Homo sapiens: one gene and its partners. The protein of the gene in region 2 purifies or fractionates together with the protein of the main gene of each other region. This does not show direct contact. Each region holds a gene or a part of one and is shown on either strand. Other genes may lie near its edges. The genes, in order: DYNLT2, CEMIP, SHROOM3, CROCC2, MARCHF8, BTBD2 and LMO7.

Region 1 (3,500 bases), on a different chromosome or scaffold from region 2:
ATACTCGATGGGGAAACACTGAAAGCTTTTCCTGTAATATTAGTAACAAAGCAAGGATGTCCACTTTTGCCACTTCTTTTCAACATAGAGCTGGAAGTTCTAGCCAAGCAATTAGGCAAGAAAAAGAAATTCCTGGCTATTAATAAAATGAAGCTTACTGCTTTAACTTAAGAGGTTAGAGCATTTATCTGGGACATATTGGGCACTAAGCAAATATTTCATTAATGCATATTGGATGTCACAGAATGGATGTTTCATGTCAAAAGCATGAACTGATATATATATCAAATCAATGCTCTTTTGGTGTCTTTTCACCTTAAGACTTACGAATGTGCTATCTAAATAATTGTATTATTTAAAAATAAGTAAATGAAGTAAAATAAAATTTTAAGACAATGAAGGATAATATTTTCATAATCTCAGGGTAGGGAGGAAGAAAGGTTTTCCCTATATCTCCATCCCATAGCCACTCAGTTGCCCTCCCTGGAGGCCACTCTTGTTTCTAGTTCCTTTGGATCATCCATGGATATTCTAAATATATGCATGCAATTTGTATGTATATGTTTGTGAGTATAGATAAAAGAATAAATAGTATTCCTATTTTTTTTTGCCAAATTGATAGCCAGGAGTGAATCTAGGATTTAGCAACCACATTATTGTAGAAATCTGTTTAACAAATTTCCAAGCTTTGTGTGAGCCCTGTCCCACTGTACAGGCTTATTTAATCTGAAAACTCATTTACAGTTTAAAAAGTAATCTTTCTGCCTTTCTCTCTTCCCCTCTCTCTTTCTCCTCCAGTATACACAGATTTTAAGAGAAAGACTGAGAGAGTCAATTCACAATGTTCAGTATGTGGAGCCTCCTTTTGATGACTCAATTGCTGATATAGGTAAAGAATGGAAGAGTGCCCTGGCAAAATTAAAGTTTGCTAATTCATATAGAATGGAGCCATTGAAGAAATTCCAAGCTCATTCAGTAGAAACTAAAGTCCAGCAGATACTAACAGTAGGTTGATAAATATATATGATAGCAGTATTGTATGAGGGTTCTACAGAGAAACAGAAATTATATATACGAAGAAATTTATTCCAGGAATTGGCTCATACAATTGTCACTAGAACCAGAAGGTATTGTGTCATTGGTGCAGGCACAACAAGTTAGTTAATCAGAGATGTGTAGTCTGTCTGCTAGGTGTCCAGTTCTGCTCCTGGTTTGTAAGAGTAATGCTTTATAGTCCACAAGCCATGTCCATTTCCTTCAAGCTATACATTAATTTATTAATAAACATGGTTAGAAATCTTTGATTTCATTTTCCTGGAGGCCAGAGAAAAATTAGTGGAGTGAGAGACTAGAGGGGAGGGCTGGAAAGAAGTAGTTTTAATATGAGCCCACTGAGCAGGGCAGTGACTTGGTACAGGTTCTGAGTCCAAGTAATCTTCAGTATAAGAAAACCAAAATCTGAATTTTAATAAATGTATAAATTTAAAAAGGTTTCTTTCCTTTACCTAAGAATTTCCTTTACCTTCTAGAAGTCTTCTTTAGAAAATCTCCTTGTGTCTATTAACTGTTTGGCAGAGTAGTCTAGTAAATTACAACTTACAGCTTGTATCGCTAATGAAAAGTAATTGAATATAATTTGAAAACCCCAATAAATATTCCTCAAAATTGTTACTGAAATAGGTAAGCATAAAATTTATTTAATATTATTTAGTTAGGAATATATTTATTTTAAAACAGTTATATATATATTATTTAGACATGTTTTCTACTTGAATTTTTATATAGAAAATATTTGGTTTGAAAATAAAAGTATTTTTCTTAAATTTTCTTAAAGGAAAGTCTTAAAGATGTCAAATATGATGATAAAGTATTCTCTCACTTGTCACTTGAATTGGCAGACCGCATACTGTTAGCAGTCAAAGAATTTGGGTACCACCGTTATAAGTTCATTATAAAAGTATTATTTATTCAAAAGACTGGCCAAGCAATAAATGTAAGTACCCCATTGATACAGGATCTAGCAATTAGAACTATAAGGCATCTCCTCCCTAGTGATTTGATTTTTATTGTGATGACTCAAGGGCATGCCATAGATTCTGAGGTACTTTTTGAAGGAAAGTATCATGTTGTTAAGTATATTTATTTCACTGTAAATTATTTGAAAAGTACAAACCAGCTGGGTTCGTTGGCTCATGCCTGTAATCCCAGTAGTTTGGGAGGCTGAGGCAGGTGGATCACCTGAGGTCAGGAGTTTGAGACCAGCCTGGCTAACATGGTGAAACCCCGTCTCTACTAAAAATACAAAAATTAGCTGGGCATGGTGGTGGGTGCCTGTATTCCCAGCTACTCGGGAGGCTAAGGCAGGAGACTCACTTGAGACTGGGAAGCAGAGGTTGCAGTGGCCCGAGTTCGCTCCACTGCACTCCAGCCTGGGCAACAGACTCAAAAAAAAAGAAAGAAAAGTACAAACCTAGAAGTAGCAATTTGGTACTACTAATTTATTAAATTGCACTGCTATTCTGTTCCTTGATCATATCAATTTTGACAGTTTAATGTCATTTAAGTTAACCAGTAAATTTATTTTGGGCACTAATAGGTGTTAGGTACTAAGGAAAATCAAGGAATGATAAAACACGGACCATGATTCTCAAGGAGATTTTACTCTACTTAAGGAGATAAAGCAGCACAATTTAGAATTCAGGGAAATAAAATGATAGGGATAATGTAAACAGCCTGGGTTTTGGAGTCAGATTGCCTCTGCCACACTTGCTGGCTGTGGCCTTGGCACAGTTTCTTCATCTATAAAATGGTGATGATAAAACTGGCTTCCTAGAGCTGTTGTGAAGATTAAATGAAATTATCTGTATTAAAATCCTTAACATAATCACCAGCACAGAGCCCTCAATAAACAGCAAGGTAATTATAAACATTATTTATTAATAAAGAGATAATATCACTAGGCTGTGTAATTATGTAAGGAGTTGGTAAGGAATATGTGGGAGTTGGAGAGAAAAGAGAGAAAAAGCTGTGTTTGGAAGAATCTGTAGAGGTTCCATAGAGGAGTGGACTGCATGATGAAGCATGGGGAGGGGGACCTGGACTGGCAGAGGGGTACTGGCGAGAGAACCGCCAGTCAGCAAGAAAGAACCGTCCTGGCTCCCATGGAGAAGAGAAGCTGCACCACATATGACATACAGACTTAAGAAATAGGGACGTTGTAGATGATAAGTGCTACAAAGAGAACATTAAGGTAGGGATATGACAGAGTAGCAGAGTGGCTACTTGGGATTGTTTAGAGAAGGGAGAACCCTCTGATGTTCAGATAAGAAGGAACCAGCTGTACCAAAGAGAAGGGAGAATGTTCCAAGCAGAGAAAACTTCAAGTGCAAAGATCCTGAGGCAGGGATGACTTGGAGTGCTTGATATGTAACAAGTGTAGCTGGACTAGTAGCTAGTAGATAGTGGCATGATGTGCAGTGGGGGAATGTTTCAGCTTATAT
Region 2 (4,172 bases):
CTTTCTGGAAGAGGCCTAGAGGTGGATTGCAGGACTTCCCAGTTTAACCAGGTGACAAAGGCTTCTGCTTCAGCCCAGATGTGATCACAGACTTCCACAGCTTCTGCCGACCACAGCCTGGCCTTAAAGTCCAGACCTAGAGTCCCGGAGCTAGTGTGTACTACACAGAATGGAGACCTTGCCTGAGGAGCTGGTTCTCAGAGAACACTGGCAGGAAGGAAGAAAGAAATGTATATTCTAGGAGGCCTCTGCTAACCAGGAAAGGGGGCTGAGTCACACTCTGAAAGGTGGAAGAGGCAGAGAGCAGGTATCAACGCCCTCATTTTACAGATTAAAACAAAACAAGAAAAACAAACACTCCTCACCTCCCTGCAAAAAAACCACCCTGAGGCTCAGACAGGGGAAGTAGCTGGCCCTGGTCACACAGTAGGTTAGCGGCAGAGTTGAGAGGAGACTCCATATGCCCTAGGGATGTGTTGTGATGAACTTTTCCTACTGGTACTGTTTCCTCCCGCGAGGGAATGTCTAGACCAGCCGCACCTTCTTGCTTTGACCCTTCAGAACTTTGGCCTGTCCAGTTAAAGAGGCACAGAGCCCTCCTACCCACAGGGAATGTTTCTAACTTACCAAGCACCTATTATGTGCTTAGAACTTGGACTTTCCTGATCTCATTTAAGCCTCACCATTCTAGTGAGGAAGCATCACAGAACCCATTTTCCTGATGAGGAAACTGAGACTGGGAGGGGTTAAGATCCTGTACACAGTTGTAACTGGCATGTCTGAATCCAGTTTCAAACCAAGGTGCCTTTCAGTGAACACCCAAGCATCTTCCTCTCGGATTAACTGCTAGGCCAATACCAAAATCTCTTTCTCGGGCTACTCTTTTGCTGCTGAGTTAAAAAGAGATCCTGAGACTTAGCCTGGGACCCCGACTCGCGGCGATTCTGTGGCAGGCGCAGACCTTTTCTCCTGTCCTCCACTGCCTCTTTGCCTCGGAGGGCGCCCCGGGGCGCGAGCGGGGCACGGGCGACCCTGGCTCCTTGGAGGCCCGGGGACTTGCTCTCCGCGGTCCGCCGCGGCCGCTCCACCGAGTCCTGGCCTCCAGCGCCCTCACCTGGCTGCTGCGGGCGGGACTCTGCGCACCCGGGCTCCGCGGGCTCAGGTCTGCGTCTCCCAGAGCCGCCGCCAGAGCCCGCCCCGGTCCGGCCCGGGCACAGGGCCCCCGCCCCACTTGGGCAAGGCGGGGGCGCGTGGAGGGAAGTTTCATCGGGGGGCGAGGGAGGGAGCTTCGGTGCCGCGCGGGCGTCAGGGGCTCCTCGGGGGAGGAGTCAGTAAAAGTGGCTATAAAAGCGGCCTCTCGGCTGAGGGCCGGGGAGCTAGCGCTCAAGCAGAGCCCAGCGCGGTGCTATCGGACAGAGCCTGGCGAGCGCAAGCGGCGCGGGGAGCCAGCGGGGCTGAGCGCGGCCAGGGTCTGAACCCAGATTTCCCAGACTAGCTACCACTCCGCTTGCCCACGCCCCGGGAGCTCGCGGCGCCTGGCGGTCAGCGACCAGACGTCCGGGGCCGCTGCGCTCCTGGCCCGCGAGGCGTGACACTGTCTCGGCTACAGACCCAGAGGTAAGAGGGCCTGGCTGGGGGCGTCAGGGATGAGCTGACGGCCCATGCCACGGAAGAGAGGTAAGAAGTGGGGGCCCGCGCCTCCACCCGGCACAGGGTAAACGTTACCCGCCTCAGTTTCTGTTTGTCTGTCCACCCTGTGCTGTGCAGTCTACCTCTATCTGTCTGTTTGTCCATGCGTCTGTTGATGGGCACACGCTCTTGGCACTGTCCTCTGTGGGATTTCTCTGAGATCTTGTGATGCTTTACAAGCTGCAGGTGCCGGGGGGCGCTGGAGTCCCCAGAGGGCATCCAGAGGGGGCAGACTCCTGCTTTCCGTAGATTTTCCCCCTTCTGAATGGCACCGGGGGCTTGCGCCCGGGAGAGTGTCTCGCCGAGGAGGGAGTACCACAAGGGTCAGGTCTCGGTGTCCTGCCGACTGGGAGCCAGCTCACGCCGAGCTCTAGCGGGCGTGCGCCTAGCAACAGGTCTGCGCCCTGCTGCTCCTGCCTCAGCACGCTCTTCCTCCCAGTTTCCCTCGCCTCCCAGTGCCTCCGGGACAGCGCTAGGCACCCAGCGACGCGCTGGCGCGGGGCCGAGCTGAGGCAATTGCAATGTTAGATGAACCCGGGGGGCTCTGCTGATGTTTAGACTGAGACTCCAAACGTGGCATCGCTGGAAGAAGGTCTGGTGGTCCCTGGCAAAGGACGTCGGCTCCAAGAAAGGTCGCGTTAGGTTGTGAGGAAAGGCAGAGAGTCCTGGCAGAACGCTGGCCAGGTCTCCAGCTCGCCGCTCTGGGAACGAAGGCCAGTGACATTCTGGAATGGACCCCAAGGGATGCGTGTGCTCATGAGAGAGGAGCGCTGTGCGCCCTGGGTCCTCAGCCGCAGACACTCTCTGCGACAGCCGCTGTTCCCCAAGGGTCGGACGCTACGGCAGTCCCAGGAGTTCCGCCAGCTGCCGGGTTTGAGGTCCTGAGTCCTTCTCCAAGCAGCCAACGCTACCCACAGGTGAGAGCTCCCTTTAAAAACTAATCTTCTGATGTGTGAGCCAGTGCCTGGCTGCAGCCCCATACCAGGGACGGTGAGCCGGGGAGCGCGTCTCTCCATCCCTGCGGTCTGGAAAGTGATCCAGGGCGCGCCCGAGGGCGGGGAGCCGGCGGCTCTGCGTGCCCAGGCGCGACGCCACCATGGACAGCTCCCAGCCACTTCCTCCACTCGGGGTCTGTGGCCCTGGGTCTCCGGGGAAGTCGTGCGCTTTCTTCCCAGACCCAAGGCGTTGGGGCGCTGGGAAAGAGGAAAGGGACTGAGAGTCCGCTGGGGCCCTCGGTATTACCACTCAGGAGGCAGCCCAGCCCTCAGGAGTCTGTGGTTTGTGACCAGGTCCTAGCTGAGCCGGCAGTTCTGCAGGACCTCCCGGGGGCACTCTGTGGTTCTCTGGCTTTTCTATGACACCACGGAGACCCCTCAGAGCTGTTAGGAAAGTATGGCCCCTGAGAATCCGACCCAGGCAGTGAGATAATGCCAGATACAATTACGCCAGACATAATTAGGGATCCAGCTCAAACTGTTTTCTGTGTAGGGCACAAGTTCATGTGTTCCATCAAATTAAATTATTTATTTAGTACATATGGGATTGGGAGGATATATTAGTTTTACGATTAATGATAGAATGGAGAAGAAATCAAATAGAGCAAATTTATAGAGAAGGCAATCGGATGCATTTGCAAAAGCAACTATGCGGTTTTCTGATCCTAATAGTTTTGTTCAAAGCCCATGACTTTCTTAAAGCAATTTCCAAAGGCTCCTTTTTAGCCCAGTAGATGACTTTTCAAGTTGGTCACTTGAAACAGGGTGGAAAAACCTGTAGGGTTTAATCTGTGCACCAAATTAAAGATCTCCCTTCTCTGGTAAGAAACGACACTGGATGGGGCTCTTTTTGTCATTTCCACCCATACTGAAGTGTGTATCTTCCTTTATTTTAAAATTACAAGAAACGCAGGTCTGCTTTTTTTGTGTGTGACTGACAAAGGCCGACGGAGAGTAAAAACAAGTAAACACCTCTTATAAAAAAAAATTTTGAGACAGCATCTGTGACTTTGGGAAAGTTGCTCAAATGTTTTGTGCCTGTTTGCTGATATGTAAACTGGGAATAACGCAATGCCATCTTGCAGGGTTGCTATGAGAATTACAGTAATTGGTACAATGTAAAGCATTTAATCCAGTGCTGAGCATAGAGAAATCGTTTTAAATGGTAGCAATTACAGGTATATTTTAAAGACAGTTGTGCATTTCTTTTGAATTATGTTCACCATCCCTTTGCCCTCTCTCTTAACCTAGTAACTGTTTGATAGGGACTCCATCTTCACTTTATTTTTGCATCCGAGAACTTGTTGATGGAATTGATGAAAATGCTGGAGTTGATCACAATGAAAAAAAAATTCTTATTTAAAGACAAATGGAAGAACTTTTATGTGATAAAAATCGGTCAACTGTTTTCCCCTACCTACACTACTTGGAGGAAAGATAAAAGTAAGTTGTTTTCAAAATACTCTCACAGCCCTCTGGTTCAGATGA
Region 3 (3,500 bases), on a different chromosome or scaffold from region 2:
GAAGACATCAGAACAGAGGCTTTGGCCAAGGAAATTGTCCACCAAGACAAATCTCTAGCAGACATTTTGGATCCAGACTCCAGGCTGAAGACAACAATGGACCTGATGGAAGGTTTGTTTCCCCGAGATGTGAACTTGCTGAAGGAAAACAGTGTAAAGAGGAAGGCCATACAGAGAACTGTCAGCTCTTCAGGATGTGAAGGCAAGAGGTAAGTCCCTGGTGATGTCCTCAGAGAGACTTACAATCACACTCCTTCCATGGGGATGATGATAAGTCTAGGACTAGTTGCCTGATGTTCTCCTACTGCCACAGCTCCTGAACCAAGAGTGACATTTTATCTCAGTCTTGGAGGAATGGCTCTGGCAGTGAGGATGTGGGACAGATATGCAACAACAAAGAAAGTAATAGTAATAATTATAATAATTGCCATTAGTACCCATTGTTAACGTTGTGTGTCAAACATTGTATTAATTTATTTATATCAACATTATTTAATTTTCACAAGAACTTTCTGAGGTGGCTACCAATTTTACCTCCATTTACAAATGAGGAAACTGAAGTACAGAGGAATTAAGACCATGCTCACCAAGGTCATTGAACATGTGAGTGATGGCACCTGGATTTGATCACAGCCCCATGACTGTGCCTGTCTCCAGCAATTACACAGTGCCCCCAGCTCAGCAAAGGTGTACTTGCCGGTTCTGTATCAGAGCTGCTCTGGCAGAGAGGCCCTCAGAGCTCGGTGCTGGGAAAGGAGCAAGTGGAAGTGGTGAGCGTGGCCAACGTCTTGCCAAGACTGAGAGGGGAAGGGCTTTGTAAGGAGGAGAGCCTAGAGAAATAGATTCGTGTACTACACTGACCCTTACCTCTGAGGCATTAAGGTGGGTGTTGGCGCAAATCCTGAAAATCAGGAAAGGTCTGAGTAGGAGCGCACTGTCTGGTTTGGCCCAGTCCGTGAGCCTCTGCTTCTGAAGCTCCTTGAGCCAGCCATGTAACACGTGTCCCAGTGTGCAGTCTGTGCTTTTCATTTCTCCTGGGTTACTGCAGTATTTTCTTGCATGTTTTATTTCCTTAAAAGACTACTATGAGAAAGACTGAGTAGCTTTCATTTTCTCTTAAATTTTCAGTGAAATCTTTGTGGATTGACAGTCTGGGACTCAGCAGTTAGTGGCTTCCAGACTAAATAAAAACAGAACATTTTATCCAAATTTGGGATTGCATTTTAAAAATTTCCAACTGATCCTAACTAAATTACTAACAGGAACACCACGTTTCATTTTATGGGGGAGAGAGAAAGGAAAGAGCTATGTGATACTTACAAGCTATTTGTCACATTGTCAGAGGCTCTTCTGATTCAAGGCCTTAACTGTCACCTTGTCCATTTCACTGCTTTTATTTTCAGATTTGGGAAACAGACTAATTGAGGTGAAGTGATTTATCCAGGGTCATGTCTTTAGCAAACACATACTGAGCACCTACAATGTGCAAGGCAATCCACTGGGTACTATGGGGACCCCAAAGATAAGATTTTTGTAGGTGTGCCAGTCAGTTCACCATGGGTGGTTGCAGTATGGTCATTCTGTTCTCTGACCACTGGCTGAAGGACCAAAGTAACATCCTTAGCAAAGTATTTCCTAGCATTACCACTGGAAATATATGTTTGCTCCGTCAGTTTAGAAGCAGAATGGTCATGGAGCTTTTGCAGCACTGAGACCTTCCTGGGGATTTAAAAAAAAAAAAAAAAAGGCATGCGCCATCTCCTGGTGGAAATAAGCATTGTCCTGTTGGGCATGAGATGGCCAGTAGCCATTGTGAGGGTTGGTCAGATGCCAGAGAATCCCATTTGTAATGCGGTGGACATATCTGAAAACAAAAACAAACAAAAATGTATCAGAAAATCTTTTCCCTGTCTTTCAATTAACTGGATTAAATGTGGTCATTGTTGCTTACTGGGACAGTTATCAAGCAGGAAACTAGTAAAGATGATTTTTTGTGTGTGTGGTTCCTAATTTCATAGTAAAATGATGGGCTAGATGTTAAATAATATCACAAGATTAAATAAAGTTCCTCTCCAAGAGAATCGTACTTCCATAGAGTCATTTATTCAGTGGGTAGGATATGAATTATAGGCTGAAAGGCAACTCAAATGTGGTAAAACAGAGAACTACTAGATAGCAGGTTTCTCAATTCTGAGTTTTTTCTTCAGCCTTAAAACATCCCTATTATATTATCAATGAGTAGATTTTATATCTTGTATTAGTTCACTGCGGACCAGCAAACTGCAGATTTCCCAGGATTATATGGGATAGCAGGCACACTTGAGAAGGAAAAATTTTGTGTGTTCAAGCAACAGTGCATAGTAGGCACTAGAAAGATTACATGTAACCAAAGGAGTATAGGAAATAATTGACCTAAAACCTGAGGTTTGTGCAGCACCTTGAAAATACTTTCACATTGATTGAGTCATGGTTCCACACTGCCTTTCTCTGAAATAAGGAGTCAGTGTCGTTCTTATATGAATCACAAAAGCAGAGAGGTTAAATGTCTTCTCCAGAGTCAGCTGGCGAGGCCATAGCCTTGACTCCCACTGTCATCCCTAATGCTGCTTTTGGTGGTTTTCCATCCCAAGTTTGCCTGGCTTCAACAGCCCTGTACATAGTAATCACTCATTAGTTAACAGTTACTAGTTTATCCTAATTTCTGGGAAAGAAATTAAATAGAATTGTTACGCACTTCTGAATGGACTGACATCTGCAGTGAAACAAAGCCTCTGGCGTGATCTGTGTGGCTATACTTTGTGCTCTTTTTGGCCCAGGAATGAAGACAAGGAAGCAGTGAGCATGTTGGTTAACTGCCCTGCCTACTACAGTGTGTCTGCTCCCAAGGCTGAGCTACTGAACAAAATCAAAGAGATGCCAGCAGAAGTGAATGAGGAAGAGGAACAGGCAGATGTCAATGAAAAGAAGGTAAATAAAGAATGGGATGCCCTTGTTCAGCTTTCCTCAGAAAAATTGACAAGGTCCATGTAATCAGCGTGGTGACTGGGCCTCTTGAGGCAGGTGGGGAAAGGACCTGTCACATCACCAGATTGCACCAAAATCATTAGACTTTGGATTTACATGGCACTTTAACTAATTTCCTCTTAGCTTTTCTGTGAGTAGGCAGGGCAGGTAAGCTACTGTACTTTTCGTTTTTACAAATAACAGAAGTGAAGCTTAGAGGGATTATTAGAAGTCTCATAGCCAGGACTTGAACCCAAGTCCCTAGCCTCCTAATCCAGCACCAGGACCCCGACACTGTTCTCAGCTGCTGGTTGGCCAGTGCCAACGGTGTGTGTAATTTTCTTGTTTCATAGTCAAAAGGAAAATTTTAAAATCTAGAAACTTTTTTTAGGGAAGGAGGCCAATTGTTAAATGACACTTCTGAGAAAAAGTAATATTAACCTTTATATCTTCCCCAGCCCTTTTTGAGGGACTTCAGCGAATAGCTTGAAAGTGCA
Region 4 (3,500 bases), on a different chromosome or scaffold from region 2:
CCCTGTTGCCCACTACCCAGGCCTCCTCATGGCCCCTTGACCCCAGAGCCCCACACCCACCCCCTCCCAGCTACTCTCCTGCCACCCTTGCTCATGCAGCCTCAGAGTGGCCGCCAAGATCAAGGAGAGCCAGAGGTCAAGGTAACCTGTGGGTCACCCAGCTGTAGGGACAGGCCTGGAAAGCCGAGCCGGTGTTGCCGGCTCCACGACCCATCCACAAGCTCCCACCTCCAGCGTCCTGGGGGACTCGAGCTTGTTCTCCTTGGGAAGTTTGTTCACCATCCCAGGCTGGATGGCGCAGGGGGAGGGGTGGGAAGGGCAGGTGTCTTTGGACTTCCATCCGTGGAGCCTGGGGGACAGCCCCTTGTCCCTCTGCTGTGTGCTGCTGAGGCCCTGCAGGAACAGGGAAGGTGCCCACACAGCCACCCAGGCTGGCCCTGCAGAGTGGGCTGCACCAGCTGTGGGCCCAGGGTTCTGATGCCCTCACAGCCCCCTTCTGGGAGTAGGCAGGGGGCCCCCATCTGTGAAGTGGGGAAGGCAGGTGCTGAGGCCTCAGGGGTGAACCCCAGAGCAGGGTGGCCCTTCCCAAGGACTCACTGCCACCTGCAGAAGGCCCCGCAGCCCAGCCTGCCCAGGGAACAGGGGCCAGCAGGTCAGGACAGTCACGAAAGCCACCAGCCAGCTTGTCCACAAAGGACCACCTGCCCTCCAGAGTAGGGCCAGCCAATGGGGTCCAGTCACCAGCCCCTGCTGCTATTACTGAAGGGGGCCCAGCGCCATGGAGCCAGGGTGTTGGGGCCTCCCGTGGACGCTGCTGGGGGTGGAGGAGCAGGGGGCTTGCATCAGCCCTGGTTGCGACAGCACTGCCCGGGGACGCAGAGCCAGCTGTGGGCACAGTGCCCACCGTGAGTCCCTGGAGCCTGAGGAGGGGGAGGGAAGGAACAGCTAATGAGTTCCAGGAGGTCAGCTGTGAGGGGCCCACAAACCCATAAACCCTTTATTGGTGTCTCAGGAGGGGAAACCCGGATGTGGCCGTTTATTTATTTTGGATTTCACTTTTCTCTTCTCTTTATAACATGCACTTCCAGGAGTGTAACTGGATTTTTAAAGAAACAGGACTTCCTTTTTCAGTGCAGGGGACTCTCTGTTTTTCTCAGTCCTGAAGAAGAAAGGAACCCTTATTTTTTGTAAAGTTCCAACCACTGACCCTGTAACAAACTTTACCCATGCAAATTATCCCCTCTGTCTTAGGGCCCGAAACCAGGCCTGCTCCAGCCCTGAAGCTAAGAGGGCAGGTTTGTGGTGTGCCAAGTGTGTGCACTGAGCCCCAGGTCTGCTGCCCAATCCTGGGCCAGGGCCAGCACCCGACAGAGGGCATTGGGGCCAACAGAGGACTGACCTGGCACTCCAGCCCAAGGCTGTCACCCCTGTGGACACAGCCCCAGCAGGCATGACCCTCGGGGCTGGGCACGGCAGAGCCTGGAGGCAGCCTGGTTGGGAGAGCAGGGCCTGGGTTCCAGGCCTGCCTCAGCGCCTGCCTGGCCCAATGAGCCTGTGACATCATGGGATCCCTTCCACACCAACTCCCCATGAGGCATGCCCCAGGCCATCTGGGGGTGCTGGAAGCAGGCTGTCTGGGGCTGGTGGACGGTGTTCCTCTCCCAGTGCTGCTCTCTGTAAGAGAGAACTCTTAGATTCAATCCTTTCCTCCAGAGGGCCCATTCGCAAGGGAACAAAAGGTCCCTGCCAACTTTCCCATAGAAAATGTCTGTTTCCTGGGTAACCTTCCCTGATTTTTAACCTGGAGCTTATCCCTCCTGACCTGTACCCATGGGGTAGGGAGTGGGTGACTAAGGAGGGAGCACATTGGGGCAGCCTACAGCCTACAAGGAGGACAGACGGTGGGGATAGTGATGCCAATGCCACAGGCTTGTTGGGATTGAGACAGCAAGTGTACCCAGCTCTCAGGGCCTGTGCCTGTACGAGCTCAGCAGATCCTGAGTGCCAACAGCAGAAGGCAGGTGCCAGAGAGTGCAGGGGATCATGGCTCATGAGACCTGGAGGAACACTGAGAAGGGGTTTGCGGGGTAGCTCCTGGGATGTCACCTTAAAAGATGTAGGGAGTCCCCCATTGAGGATGTTGATGGGGCCATCTGCTGCTCTGTAGCTGGATGGGGACTTGGCCCTATGCTCCTCCTTAAGCTGTCACTCTGGCTGCAGATATTGGATAGACCTGGGTGAGGCCAGGGGTCCTGGCCCAGGGCAGTGCCCTTCCTGACGCTGCCAGCTCTTAGGGGAATTCAGAGTCCTTCCCAGAGGCAACCCTGTGCTCCCAGAGGAGGGCTGGCCTGACCTCACTCCCTGCCAGGAGGCCACAGGTTCTGCCTCCTGGGATCTCTGCAGATGGAGCAAGAGACACTGAAGAGGGAGGAGGATGTGGCGAGGCTGGGGGCTGAGAAGGAGCAGCTGGACCAGTCTCTGAACAGCCTGCACCAGGAGGTGGACGGAGCCCTGAGGCAAAATCAGCAGCTGCAGGTCAACTGGGCCAGTGGAGCTCTGCATACCCCAGGCCTGGGGGCAGACCTGGGGTGGGATCCAGGAGGGTGTCAGTTCCAGAGGGGTGGCTGGTGTACCTCCATCTCACACGTGCACACATGGGGAGGGTGGCTGGACCAGCTTCTGCATGTGATGGATACAGACTCAGACCAAGGCCCCAGGCAGAGCTGGAACCAGGACCCAAGGCTCCTGCCCTTCTTGAGACATTGAAGTCCCCATGGGAGCCAGGCCCGGGCTCTGTAGAGCAGCACAAGGGCCAGGTGAGGGAGGTCAGAGAGGCCTGTGGGGCATGGCCAGAGGCTGCTACCTGCTTGTGTTAGGGCGAGGAAATCCCCTGAGGCCTAGGGGCCTGACACCCACAGAAGGGGCCTCAGAGGCTTCATTCATCCTGTCCACATTGGACATACCCCCATCCTCAGAAACCAGCAGGGGATGGGGGCAGGATGGGCAAGAATCAAACTTCGATGCCCTCCGGACACCCAGCCCAGCCAAAAGGAACCTGGGGTGCCATGAAAACAGATTTTAGGCCCACCCTGGAGGCTGTGGCTTAGTCTCCAGCCCAGCCAAAGCCAAACCCAAGGCCCACGGGCTGAACATGTGCACCTAACCCCAGGTCTGCTGGGCAGTCCTGGCCAGGTCAACACCGGCAGAGGGCAGTGGGGCCCACAAGGACAGGTGAAACACCCTGTGGCACTCCTGCCCTGGGATTCTGTGCGGCCCTCAGTGAGAGACAGCAGTGAGATGCCCAAGTTCTCACTCCAGGCCCAGATGACAGAGATGGAGCAGGCCCACACCCAGCGGCTCCAGGACCTGACAGCTCAGCACCAGCGGGACCTGGCCACAGAGGCAGAGCGTCTCCATGGGGCCCGGCCGCAGGCCACGCAGGCCCTGGAGTCCCAAGAATGGACCCACCAGCAGCAGGTAAAGGTGCTGGAAGAGCAGGT
Region 5 (3,500 bases), on a different chromosome or scaffold from region 2:
AGTTCTTAGGAATCTTAAGTTTACTTGGACACATGAAAATAGCATCCTTGAAATAACCCTCCCATCACTACCTTTGTCAATATTCTTCCTGAAACAAAATGAAAGACATCTAGGGATGCCTGTGGACACTATGCTGTGACATCCCTTGCATCTTCTAGGCCTGACTGCATAAGCCATTGTCCTTTTTCTCCAACTGCCTTAGACACTGTCCCCTCTCCAGCATCCTCCTCTCGGGGCACCCATCACTGGCTCCACCTGCCCCAGAGACAAGCACTCAAGGCCTTTTAGTACAATGGGCTTTACTGTTTATACCACAGGGGAGCAGATTGAGAGGGTATCCATGCTAAGGTCCCCAAACTCCTACAGTCCCCCTGTTCTCTGACATTTAGTCCTAACACTATTCTGGGACTGAAAGCCTTCCTGTACTTATTGCTCTCTTCTTTTATTTCTGAGGATGACCAGCTCTGTTCAACACACATAGGCAAGGCTAAAATGTGTCATGAAGACCAAAGCCTGATCACGGTGTATTGCAGAGAAGTAAGCGTCTTCATCACCTGTCCCCAGGTAGACTTTGAGGAAGAAATACCCAGCAATATCCACATGCTTGCCCCTCATTGCTATGAGGTCACTTCTTCCTCTGTGTTGCTGGGTCAAGCATACTCCCTGGAACTGATGAGGCATTGAAGGAAGCCCCCTTCCTTCAAGGGATGGCAGCAGAGGAAAGTACCTAGTCACCCTCCTCCCTTTTATCTTAGTAAGAGCATGGTCCTCTTGGAACCACGTGTACTTTCCTGTATTCTGAAGGGAAGGCAAACCCTGTTGGGAGGAGGTAAGGTCTTATCTGGAAAATCGTGCCCAATCAAGGTCAGTGTCCTGGGTCCGGGAGGCAGGTTTCTGATGGGAAATTAAAGTTCTGAACTCCAGTACTAAACTACAAGTAATCCAAGTCAAAAAGTGTACTCTGGGGTAACGATTCCATCCTTGCATGCCCATGATGAGGAGCAAGGCCTGAAGGTAGGAGGGCAGAGCCTCGTAACAAAACAAAGCCTGGATCAAGGAAGCAGCCACACCAGGCACACACACACGTCAGGACATGTGTTCACTTCCCTGTGTGGTTCCCCATGTGTGTGCACTTGTAGCAGATGTCAAGGCCAGCATGACAGTGACAGCGGACCCAAGGAGGAAGGGAGTTCTGGCAGGGCTGGGGAGATTCTGCCCTGCTCAGTTTTACTTAGGAAATAGGAAACAGCGTTGGCATCCTCTGCCTACATTTCTGCTCTCATTTCACCATTTCCAATCTTATGAAAACATTACAGGATACTCTCAGCAGGTATGTCCGATCCTCATCAAGCCTCCCAATGACAGAGAAAGAGTCTCTCTTCTTATTAGATCACAGAATTTAAAGAAAAATTTTAAAATCTACTTATTGTTATTTTACATAAATATAAACTTCAACAAATGCTAACTCTTCCAATAAAAGCAAGAAAACCAGTGAGATCTGTGGGGTCTTCACAGCTCCCAGAAGAGGCTCCTTCTGTCACGATCTAAAGGACAGCAAACATTTCAAAGGTCAGAACCAATCCATAGGCAGAATGGTCAAGAAAATAATTTTAAAGAGCTTTATTTGTTGCTGCTATAGACCTGAGAGAAATCTATCAACCAACAAAGACCTAAAAGACTGGCCTGATCAACAACAAAATGAAGCTGACAGCTTCAAATAATGGTTCCATGGTCAGATTCTGGAAGCCAGTGTAATCAAAGGCCAGCAATCCCCTCTTAGGAGCTCTGCAGGACAGAACCTTACTAGATGGGACAGGACCTCACTAGATGGGACAGGACCAGCCGTCCTGCTCTTTCTGAAAGCAGCAGGCAGTGTGGCACGTGTGAGCCGGGGGCAGTACTAGCTCCAGAGAACACCTACACTCTCCTCTCCATAGGATCAGACCACACACGACTCGACAATTACTAATAAAAGTGCAAATGTTCATCATGCAAAAATCCAAATGTGTCAAGAAAACTTAGGCCCTCTGTTCCTGAAGTTCTTTGCGGGTTGCCAAATGACAGACTCTCCAGTCATGAAAAGGAATATAAAGCAATCTCACTACAAAAAAAAAAATTCTTGTAAAAATCCTCCCTTCTTCAGATGTTGTAATTAATTATGCCAAAACAAACCTCTGGATTTCTATCCAAGCCTAAATCCCAGTTTATTTTATTTCTTAGAAATGATAAATACTTTTTGACAATTTGTTTTGCTACATCCAAGTCTTTTAGTGGCTGGCTTTGTTATCAAATTCACCATTTTAAATGATTTTAACAAGGTTGCCAAAGAACATACGGGGAAAAAAAACTTTTCCATATATCCTTGGCAGAAACTGGCATTCCCCTTTTCTCAGTTCCCTTCTGAGAGTGCCTGCTGTCGCTGGAGCAGCTATAGCAGTGTGTTTACCCAGTTGATAGTGCACACATCCTTCTCACTGCAGGACACCAGCGCACCTTCCTTGGCCTCTGGCGCCTTCTGCCAGGTTACTGCCCAGCCTCCTCTATTACCCACGCCCCTCATTTTCTGTGCAACCCCCAACTGGGCCTCCTTTTCACTCATCAGCTAAGCTACTTTTAAACATTTGGGTCTCAGGCCCCTAACAAAAGCAAATTTGCCCATCTGATTTATTTCAAAAGGGAGAGGGCCACAGGAATGATCTGTTTGAGTGAGCTTGTTTTTAGGCAAGGAGGAACGTGAAGACAGGCTGGATAAGGATGGTTAAGAGGCCAGAAGAGCTCATGTTTACAACTCATCACAAATTACAGTACTGCAAATCAATGACTTAACAGAAACAATGGGAAAAGATGCACAGATGGCTCTCAAAACATGAAAAGATGCTTCATTTCTCTCACAATGAGAAATACAAATTAAAACTACAATGAGATACCATTATCAGCCAAGAAAATTAATCAAATAATATGTGTTGGCGGAAGTGTTGGGAAGCAGGTATGCTTATACATTGCTGGTGGGAGAGCAAATGGTAAACCTCCACAGGATGACAACTGCCCTCAGGATGACAAAGGCACATATACTTTGTCTCAGCAATTCTTTTAGGAATTCATCCTCACACACCTGCGGGAAGAGGTTTGTACACTGCACTAGTTTGTGACAGCAAACGGCTGGAATCACCCTAAATGCCCATCACCTTGGAGCTGAGGCAACACTGTTCCATCTACAGAAAGAAATATCAGCAATCATTAAAAAAATGGGAAAAGTTCTCATTATGTCCAGTAATGAACACACAAAGTGAAACAAGCAGAGAGAGGCACCACTGCCATCTGTGCTGGTGCTGCACAGACTACTCAGGAGGGAGACCAGGGAACCTGGATGGAGGGACATGGACTTGTCACAGAGACCCACAAAACCATAATGCCACTTTACACTGAGCAACATTTCCCAAACAGAAATTCATTCTTAAAATAACAGGTGATTGATGATTTTAAAAAGTAAAACAAAACTG
Region 6 (3,500 bases), on a different chromosome or scaffold from region 2:
GACTGTACATGGACAGCACAGAGTGGCGTCTTGAGCCTGGGAGCCGTGGAGTTCTCCCCACCCCATACAGACCTGGCCAAACGCGGGTTCATAGCCGGCTCTTGGGGAGGCACCAGCAGCCTTTCTCTGCTCACCGCACCCTCCTGCCTGTGGCGATATCGAAGATCTGAGCCACTGAGTGGGCCCCATAGGCAGCCTGAGCTTCACACGGGGCAGAACCCCCAGCGTCCTCACAGCCACCGCTTTCCCAGCTGGGGCCACCCCTGCTGCCTCCTAACGCTCCTCCCACGCTCCTGCTGTTCCTGGGCCTCCATGCCCTTCCCCATGGACGTGGCGGCTCAGATGACCCCACAGGGCTTCCCTGGGCCTTGCGTTCCTGATGGGACCACGCTCCTCTCTCTTCTCTCACTCAGTGGGGGCTGTTCGGCCATTTGGTCCTCGTCTGTCTCCCTCAGTGAGGCCAGGCCCTGTGCCTGTAGCTGACTCCCTGGGAAAGCTTGTGCTGATGAGGGAATGCGTGAGCAGGAGAGTGATAGAGAGTAGACGAGTGTGAATGAATGAGTGAATAATGAGACTAAGTGGATGAGTGCATGTGGGAATGAACGAATGTGTGTGTGTGTGAATGGGTGAGTGAATGAGTGTGCGATGAATGAGAAAGTGAATGAATGCATGTGTCATAAATGAGCAAGTGAATGCATGCCCACGGGAATGAATCAGTGGATCAATGAATGCATGTGTGGATGAATGAATGAGTGCATGTGTATGAGTTGAGTGAATGTACATGGAAATTAGTTAATGAATGAATATGTGAATGAATGAGTGAATGAACGCCTGTGTGAATGAATGCATGTGAATGAGCGAGTGAATGCATGCATGAATGAACGTATGTGTGAATGCATGTGTGAATGAACACGTGTGAATAAATGCATGCATATGGGAATGAGTGAATGAGTGCGTGCCTGACGCCTGGAAGGAAAGAGAGAGGATGGTGAGGGCTGGCAGAGCGTGAGGCCCTGTGTGGCCCAGGGCATGGTCCTAGCCCTGCCTGTCCTTGCCGTGGGTCCGTCTGCATCACCCTCCTGCTGTCCCAGGCCCCTTCCAGAAGCCTCTGCCATCGGGGGGCCTGGTACATGCCTGCTGGAGGCTGGCAGGGAGCCCTAGTGGGGTGGTCACCCAGGATACCGGGCTGGCCCTCCCGGCCGTGGGGTGGCGGCCACGGGCTTAACCAGGGCCTTCTCTCTCCCGTACCAGGTTCGTGCTGGCCGTGGGCAGCGCCGTCTTTGATGCCATGTTCAACGGGGGAATGGCCACAACATCCACGGAGATTGAGCTGCCCGACGTGGAACCCGCTGCCTTCCTCGCACTGCTCAAGTAATGCTTCCGGATGCTTCCTGCTGGGGAGCTGGGCCTGGGGAGGGGGACCTCAGAGAACGTAGACCCTGTCTGACACCAGCTCAGAGGCCCTGGCTTGGTGGAGATTTCTAGAACGTTCCTGTGCAATGAGGGGTTCCAGAGGCACTTTTTTTTTTCTTTTTGAGATGGAGTCTCGCTCTGTTGCCCAGGCTGGAGTGCAGTGCCGTGATCTTGGCTCACTGCAACCTCAGTCTTCCAGGTTCAAGTGATTTTCCTGCCTCAACCTCCTAAGTAGCTGGGACTACAGGCTCGTGCCACCACGCCCGGCTAATTTTTTTGTATTTTTAGTAGAGATGGGGTTTCACTGTGTTAGTCAGGATGGTCTCGATCTGACATCATGATCCACCCACCTCAGCCTCCCAAAGTGCTGGGATTACAAGCCTGAGCCACCGCGCCCAGCCCAGAGGCACCCTTTTTATTTTATATTTTTTAGACGTGGTCTTGCTCTGTTGCCCAGGATGGAGTGCAGTGGTGTGATCTCAGCTCATTGAGACCTCCGACTTCCTGGTTCAAGTGATTCTCCTGAGTACCTGGGATTACAGGTGTTCACCACCACACCCAGCTCATTTGTGTGTTTTTCAGTAGAGACAGCGTTTCTCTATGTTGGCCAGGCTGGTCTCAGACTCCTGGCCTCAGGTGATCCGCCTGCCTCAGCCTCCCAAAGTGCTGGGATTACAGGCATGAGCCACTGTGTCCAGCCAGTTCCCTGCTTTTCTTTTTCTTTTCTTTTCTTTCCTTCTTTTTTTTTTTTTTTTTGACAGTTTTGCTCCTGTTGCCCAAGCTGGAGTACACAAACAAAAAATAACAACAACAACAAAAAAAAGGAAACATCAGTGAAAGAAATTTAAAAAGACACAATAAATGGAAACACATCCCATGTCCATGGATTGAAGAGAATATTGTTAAGATGTCCACACAACCCACTGCGATCTGCAGTCAGTATAATCCTATCAGAATTACTGTTTTTTGCAAAAATAGAAAAACTATCCTAGAATTCATATGGAATCCCAAGGGACCCTGAATAGCCACAACGATCTTGAAAAAGAACAAAGTTGGAGGGCTCATACTTTCTGATTTCAAAACTCACTGCAAAGCTACAATCATCAAAACAGTGTGGTACTGGCGTAAGGACAGAACGTGGGGACCAATGGAATGGAACAGAGAGCTCAGAAATAAATACCTTTGCACATAGGGTTAAATAATTTTTTGCAAGGGTGCCAAGGCCATTCAACAGAAAAGAGAGTTTAACAAATAGCACAGGCACAACTAGAAATACACATGCAGAAGAATGAAGTTAGACCCTTACCTTACTGTATATAAAAATTAACTCAAATAGATCAAAGTCCAGGCTGGGCACGGTGGCTCACGCCTGTAATCCCAGTACTTTGGGAGGCTGAGATGGGCGGATCACGAGATCAGGAGATTGAGACCATGCTGGCTAACATGGTGAAACCTCGTCTCTATTAAAAATAGAAAAAATAAATAAAAAATAAGAAAATTAGCCGGGCATGGTGGCGGACGCCCGTAGTCGCAGCTACTTGGGAGGCTGAGGCAGGAGAATGGCGTGAACCCGGGAGATGGAGGTTGGAGTGGACTGAGATCATGCCACTGCACTCCAGCCTGGGCGACAGAGCGAGACTCTGTCTCAAAAAAAAAAAAAATAGATCAAAGTCCAAAATGTAAGATCTAGACCTGTAAAATACTTAGAAGAATCCAAAGTGGCCAGGCGCAGTGGCTCAGGCCTGTAATCCCAGCACTTTGGGAGGCCGAGGTGGGTGGATCATGAGGTCAGGAGATCGAGACCATCCTGGCTAACACGGTGAAACCCCGTCTCTACTAAAAATACAAAAAAATTAGCCGGGCATGGTGGCAGGCGCCTGTAGTCCCAGCTACTCAGGAGGCTGAGGCAGGAGAATGGTGTGAACCCAGGTGGCAGAGCTTGCAGTGAGCTGAGGTCATGCCACTGCACTCCAGCTTGGGCAACAGAGCAAGACTCCCTCTCAAAAAAAAAAAAAAAAAAAAGAATCCAAAGTATGGCTAGGCGCGGTGGCTCACACCTGTAATCCCAGCACTTTGGGAGGCTGAGG
Region 7 (3,500 bases), on a different chromosome or scaffold from region 2:
CTCTTTCTACATCCTTCCTGATCTCTCTCCTCACATATATTATAGATAGCTGCATGCCTTATTTTAAATTACTGAGTTCTCCCAGAATTATTTTTGCATGTTGTTTTAAGTATCTGTGACTCCATTGCTAGATTTTATTTCTATGTATTACATCAACAAATCTTATGGAAAATCATGGAGGAAGAGATTGAGAAAAAAGGGGCTCACTAGTAAAATAGGACTTATTCTTCTTAGAGCCTACAGCAGCAAAAGAATGTACTGCATGTGCCTCCAGTATGCAAAGCAAGTTCCTCCTAATGGATCTTATCACAACTTCGTGACAAATTTCTAAAAATATTCCCTGCAGTTAGCAGTGGCAGCACTGGGTTTCTAAGGGAAAGACAAAGCAGGCGCGCTGTGTGGGTTTCAGTTAGGCGAATAATCTGGAGAGTAAAGCAAATTCTTGTGCCTTCTTTATAGGTTTTGAAAGTGACACAGATTCGGAATTTACATTTAAGATGCAGGATTATAATAAAGATGATATGTCGTATCGAAGGATTTCGGCTGTTGAGCCAAAGACTGCGTTACCCTTCAATCGTTTTTTACCCAACAAAAGTAGACAGCCATCCTATGTACCAGCACCTCTGAGAAAGAAAAAGCCAGACAAACATGAGGATAACAGAAGAAGTTGGGCAAGCCCGGTTTATACAGAAGCAGATGGAACATTTTCAAGGTACTGAGATGGGTGTGATTATTGAGTTTCGTATGCTTTTCGAATATGGTAGGATGTTAAATGTGGTAAAAAGAATGGCTCTTAAATGTGTTTCATAGATCATATATTAAGCTTGACTAGTGAGAATATTTTTCATCCCTCTATTTTTAGTTATACATATCTTGAAGCCATTTCTTCTGTTTTAGAATGTCAGCATATGATTTGCTAGGTCTTTTTTTAGATGCATGACTTCAGTTTATTGGTATTTTTCAGCTTACCAGATAATTTGTATTGTTCATGATGAGCCATGCCATGTAATGTTTTTCCTTTTTTGATTGATCTTAGTGGACATGAAAAGAATCCTTTAATTTCTCAGCAAATTAGCAGAACAGAGTGTGGTTTTGCAAATCCAGCTTCCTCTCATGGGGAGGCGTACGGTTTTGAAAGTGGTTCGGACTCTGAGGATGAACGAAGGTTTCCTGACATAGTTTTGGATGACTTAGCCAACCGTAGATTCCAAGTGAAAAAGAGGCCCCAGAATTTCATCTCGAAAATCACCTATCCTAATTCTTGTCCGCAAATATTTTCTCCTGCTGATATGTTTGCCATGGGGCTATATGGACTGACGAGGTCAGAAATACTTGTCCTGGATCTGGCTGTCTATTATGCTGCTGATTTTAATTCAGAAAGTAACACCCCAAATTGTTTGTTATGTGCCTCTTCCTTTTAACACAGCTTCTAATGAAGTATCTTTGGCCCGTGTGTATCTAGCTATCCTTGAGTTAAAATGAGATGCTGTTATAATAACTTTGTCCTAGGAGCTGTGGTGGTGATGAGAATGGAAACTAATTTGCTTTGTTCACAGTGGTGTAAACTTTGTGAACCAGAAAGCATGCCATTTGTGTTCTGTGTCACAAATGCTCATACAGTGTCTTAACCGGTTGGATGTTTTGAACAGTAATCAGAGGAGGATTTGGGGCACCAATGTGGAGAACTGGCCAACTGTACAAGGAACTTCAAAGTCCTCTTGTTATTTGGAAGAGGAAAAAGCAAAGACAAGAAGCATACCCAACATTGTAAAGGATGATCTTTATGTGCGCAAGCTCAGTCCAGTCATGCCAAACCCAGGGAATGCTTTTGATCAGTTTCTTCCCAAATGTTGGACCCCAGAAGATGTGAACTGGAAAAGAATAAAAAGGGAAACTTATAAGCCATGGTATAAAGAATTTCAGGGATTCAGGTTTGTCGTTGTGCATGTTTCTGTCACACCAGTGTTCATTCAGTACCCCAGCTGGGGTTCTATGTGCATGTTTTTTATAATAATAAGAGAGACAGAGAAAGTCTAATTAGTTCTCTAGTATCTGCGGAACCTATATAATGGAAATGAATTTCTGTTTAAATTTAAACCTGAGGATCTAGATCTTAAAAAGCCCTGTTCTATACATAGTCATAGCACGGCATTATTTTTAGTAGTTCTGTTTTTCTCCAATTCTTTGTCTCATTCCCTCTTCCCTTCTTTTCTTCATGTCACTCACAGTAGAAGGAATTCAGACTCTGAGGATGAGGACTCAGGTTCTGACAGAAGCGCCACCGTTTTTAGTAGAGCACAAAAAGCAGAGCATAGGCTAGACGGCAACTGCCAAAGACCTTCACTCTTGCTGGAATTAGCTACCAAACGGGCTGTAAAATCACCGGACTCCCATGCAGCCAGGAGAAGCAGTAGTGCTTCGGATGAGCCCAGGTGCCCCTGTCTGCATGAGCCTGCCTGCTGCGGGTCTGGCCTCAGACAACCCTCTGCCTGCTTCTGCTGCTCCATTAGCCTGGGACCTGATTGCACTGAATCAGGAAACCTGACTCACTTAGTGGACTTAGTACAAAAGCGTAATGTATAACACGCTGCTTTCTGTGCAACTACATCAGCTTGGAAGTCTGTAGGATTCAACATTCTTCTTTAGCACAATAATGTGTGAGACAGGATATATTTACATGTGGCAGTTCTTTTGAAAAGCCGGTTCAAAAAGGCTTGTTAGAAAGTTTACCTAATTTCACGGTTTTGTTGTGTGTGGAGATGTGGAAAAAGGAAATAACTTTCAGGTGGAGACTGGGAAGGGCAAGTCTAGGGAAAATGCAAAGGGAAGATTCCTTGAGCTCTTTTATAAAACTTCAGAGCAATTTATTTTCCCTTTTTCCTGCTGATTACATATACCTATTGCATAAAGTGCATGATGCACAACTTGTGAAACTTTCAAAGATTATTCCTTCTTCTTCAGGGGACACTTAGGCCACTGTGGCAAATGGAATGAGAAAGGGATACCAGGGGCCAGGCGGGGTGGCTCACGCCTGTAATCCCAGCACTTTGGGAGGCCAGGGCAGGTGGATCACTTGAGGTCAGGAGTTTGAGACCAGCTTGGCTAAAATGGTGAAACCTTATCTCTACTAAATATACAAAAATTAGCCAGGCATGATAGGGGGCCCCTGTAATCCCAGCTACTCGGAAGGCTGAGGGAGATGAATTGCTTGAACCCAGGAGGCGGAGGTTGCAGTGAGCAGAGATGGCGCCACTGCACTCAGCCTGGGCGACAGAGTGAGACTCTGTCTCAGAACAAACAAACAAACAAACAAACAAAAAACAGGGTACCAGGGAGTGGCTTTTGTGTGTGCCTGGGAGGGGTACCTAGTCCATGCTCCAGCCCCATCCGTGGCCTCCATGGTGCCCAACTTTCCTGAGAAGTATGCTCTGCTCTTATTTCTTTAGGGATTATCCAGGAAAGTCATGGGTGTTGGATTAAATGCTAGTCTGTTTTCCTAG

The links.
Region 1: the proteins of CEMIP (region 2) and DYNLT2 purify together in Homo sapiens (affinity purification with mass spectrometry, with the first as the bait; one study listed by BioGRID). This does not show direct contact.
Region 3: the proteins of CEMIP (region 2) and SHROOM3 purify together in Homo sapiens (affinity purification with mass spectrometry, with the first as the bait; one study listed by BioGRID). This does not show direct contact.
Region 4: the proteins of CEMIP (region 2) and CROCC2 purify together in Homo sapiens (affinity purification with mass spectrometry, with the first as the bait; one study listed by BioGRID). This does not show direct contact.
Region 5: the proteins of CEMIP (region 2) and MARCHF8 purify together in Homo sapiens (affinity purification with western blotting; one study listed by BioGRID). This does not show direct contact.
Region 6: the proteins of CEMIP (region 2) and BTBD2 purify together in Homo sapiens (affinity purification with mass spectrometry, with the first as the bait; one study listed by BioGRID). This does not show direct contact.
Region 7: the proteins of CEMIP (region 2) and LMO7 purify together in Homo sapiens (affinity purification with mass spectrometry, with the first as the bait; one study listed by BioGRID). This does not show direct contact.

The regions. Positions count from the first base shown.
Region 1 is NC_000006.12:169,741,573-169,745,072, reverse strand, and holds part of DYNLT2 (dynein light chain Tctex-type protein 2), read left to right. Parts: intron 1-798; coding exon 799-1,005; intron 1,006-1,834; coding exon 1,835-1,993; intron 1,994-3,500. UniProt on the Homo sapiens protein: May be an accessory component of axonemal dynein and cytoplasmic dynein 1. Candidate for involvement in male sterility.
Region 2 is NC_000015.10:80,777,998-80,782,169, forward strand, and holds the start of CEMIP (cell migration-inducing and hyaluronan-binding protein precursor), read left to right. Parts: upstream 1-1,372; 5' UTR 1,373-1,617; exon of another isoform or gene 1,618-4,127; intron 4,128-4,172. UniProt on the Homo sapiens protein: Mediates depolymerization of hyaluronic acid (HA) via the cell membrane-associated clathrin-coated pit endocytic pathway. Binds to hyaluronic acid.
Region 3 is NC_000004.12:76,756,729-76,760,228, forward strand, and holds part of SHROOM3 (protein Shroom3), read left to right. Parts: coding exon 1-209; exon of another isoform or gene 210-360; intron 361-1,320; exon of another isoform or gene 1,321-1,864; intron 1,865-2,816; coding exon 2,817-2,967; intron 2,968-3,500. UniProt on the Homo sapiens protein: Controls cell shape changes in the neuroepithelium during neural tube closure. Induces apical constriction in epithelial cells by promoting the apical accumulation of F-actin and myosin II, and probably by bundling stress fibers.
Region 4 is NC_000002.12:240,986,336-240,989,835, forward strand, and holds part of CROCC2 (ciliary rootlet coiled-coil protein 2), read left to right. Parts: intron 1-2,403; coding exon 2,404-2,535; intron 2,536-3,318; coding exon 3,319-3,498; intron 3,499-3,500.
Region 5 is NC_000010.11:45,465,872-45,469,371, forward strand, and holds part of MARCHF8 (E3 ubiquitin-protein ligase MARCHF8), read right to left. Parts: intron 1-3,500. UniProt on the Homo sapiens protein: E3 ubiquitin-protein ligase that plays several important roles in innate immunity and adaptive immunity.
Region 6 is NC_000019.10:1,995,215-1,998,714, reverse strand, and holds part of BTBD2 (BTB/POZ domain-containing protein 2), read left to right. Parts: intron 1-1,251; coding exon 1,252-1,371; intron 1,372-3,500.
Region 7 is NC_000013.11:75,803,830-75,807,329, forward strand, and holds part of LMO7 (LIM domain only protein 7), read left to right. Parts: intron 1-459; coding exon 460-712; intron 713-1,649; coding exon 1,650-1,931; intron 1,932-2,228; coding exon of another isoform or gene 2,229-2,432; intron 2,433-3,500.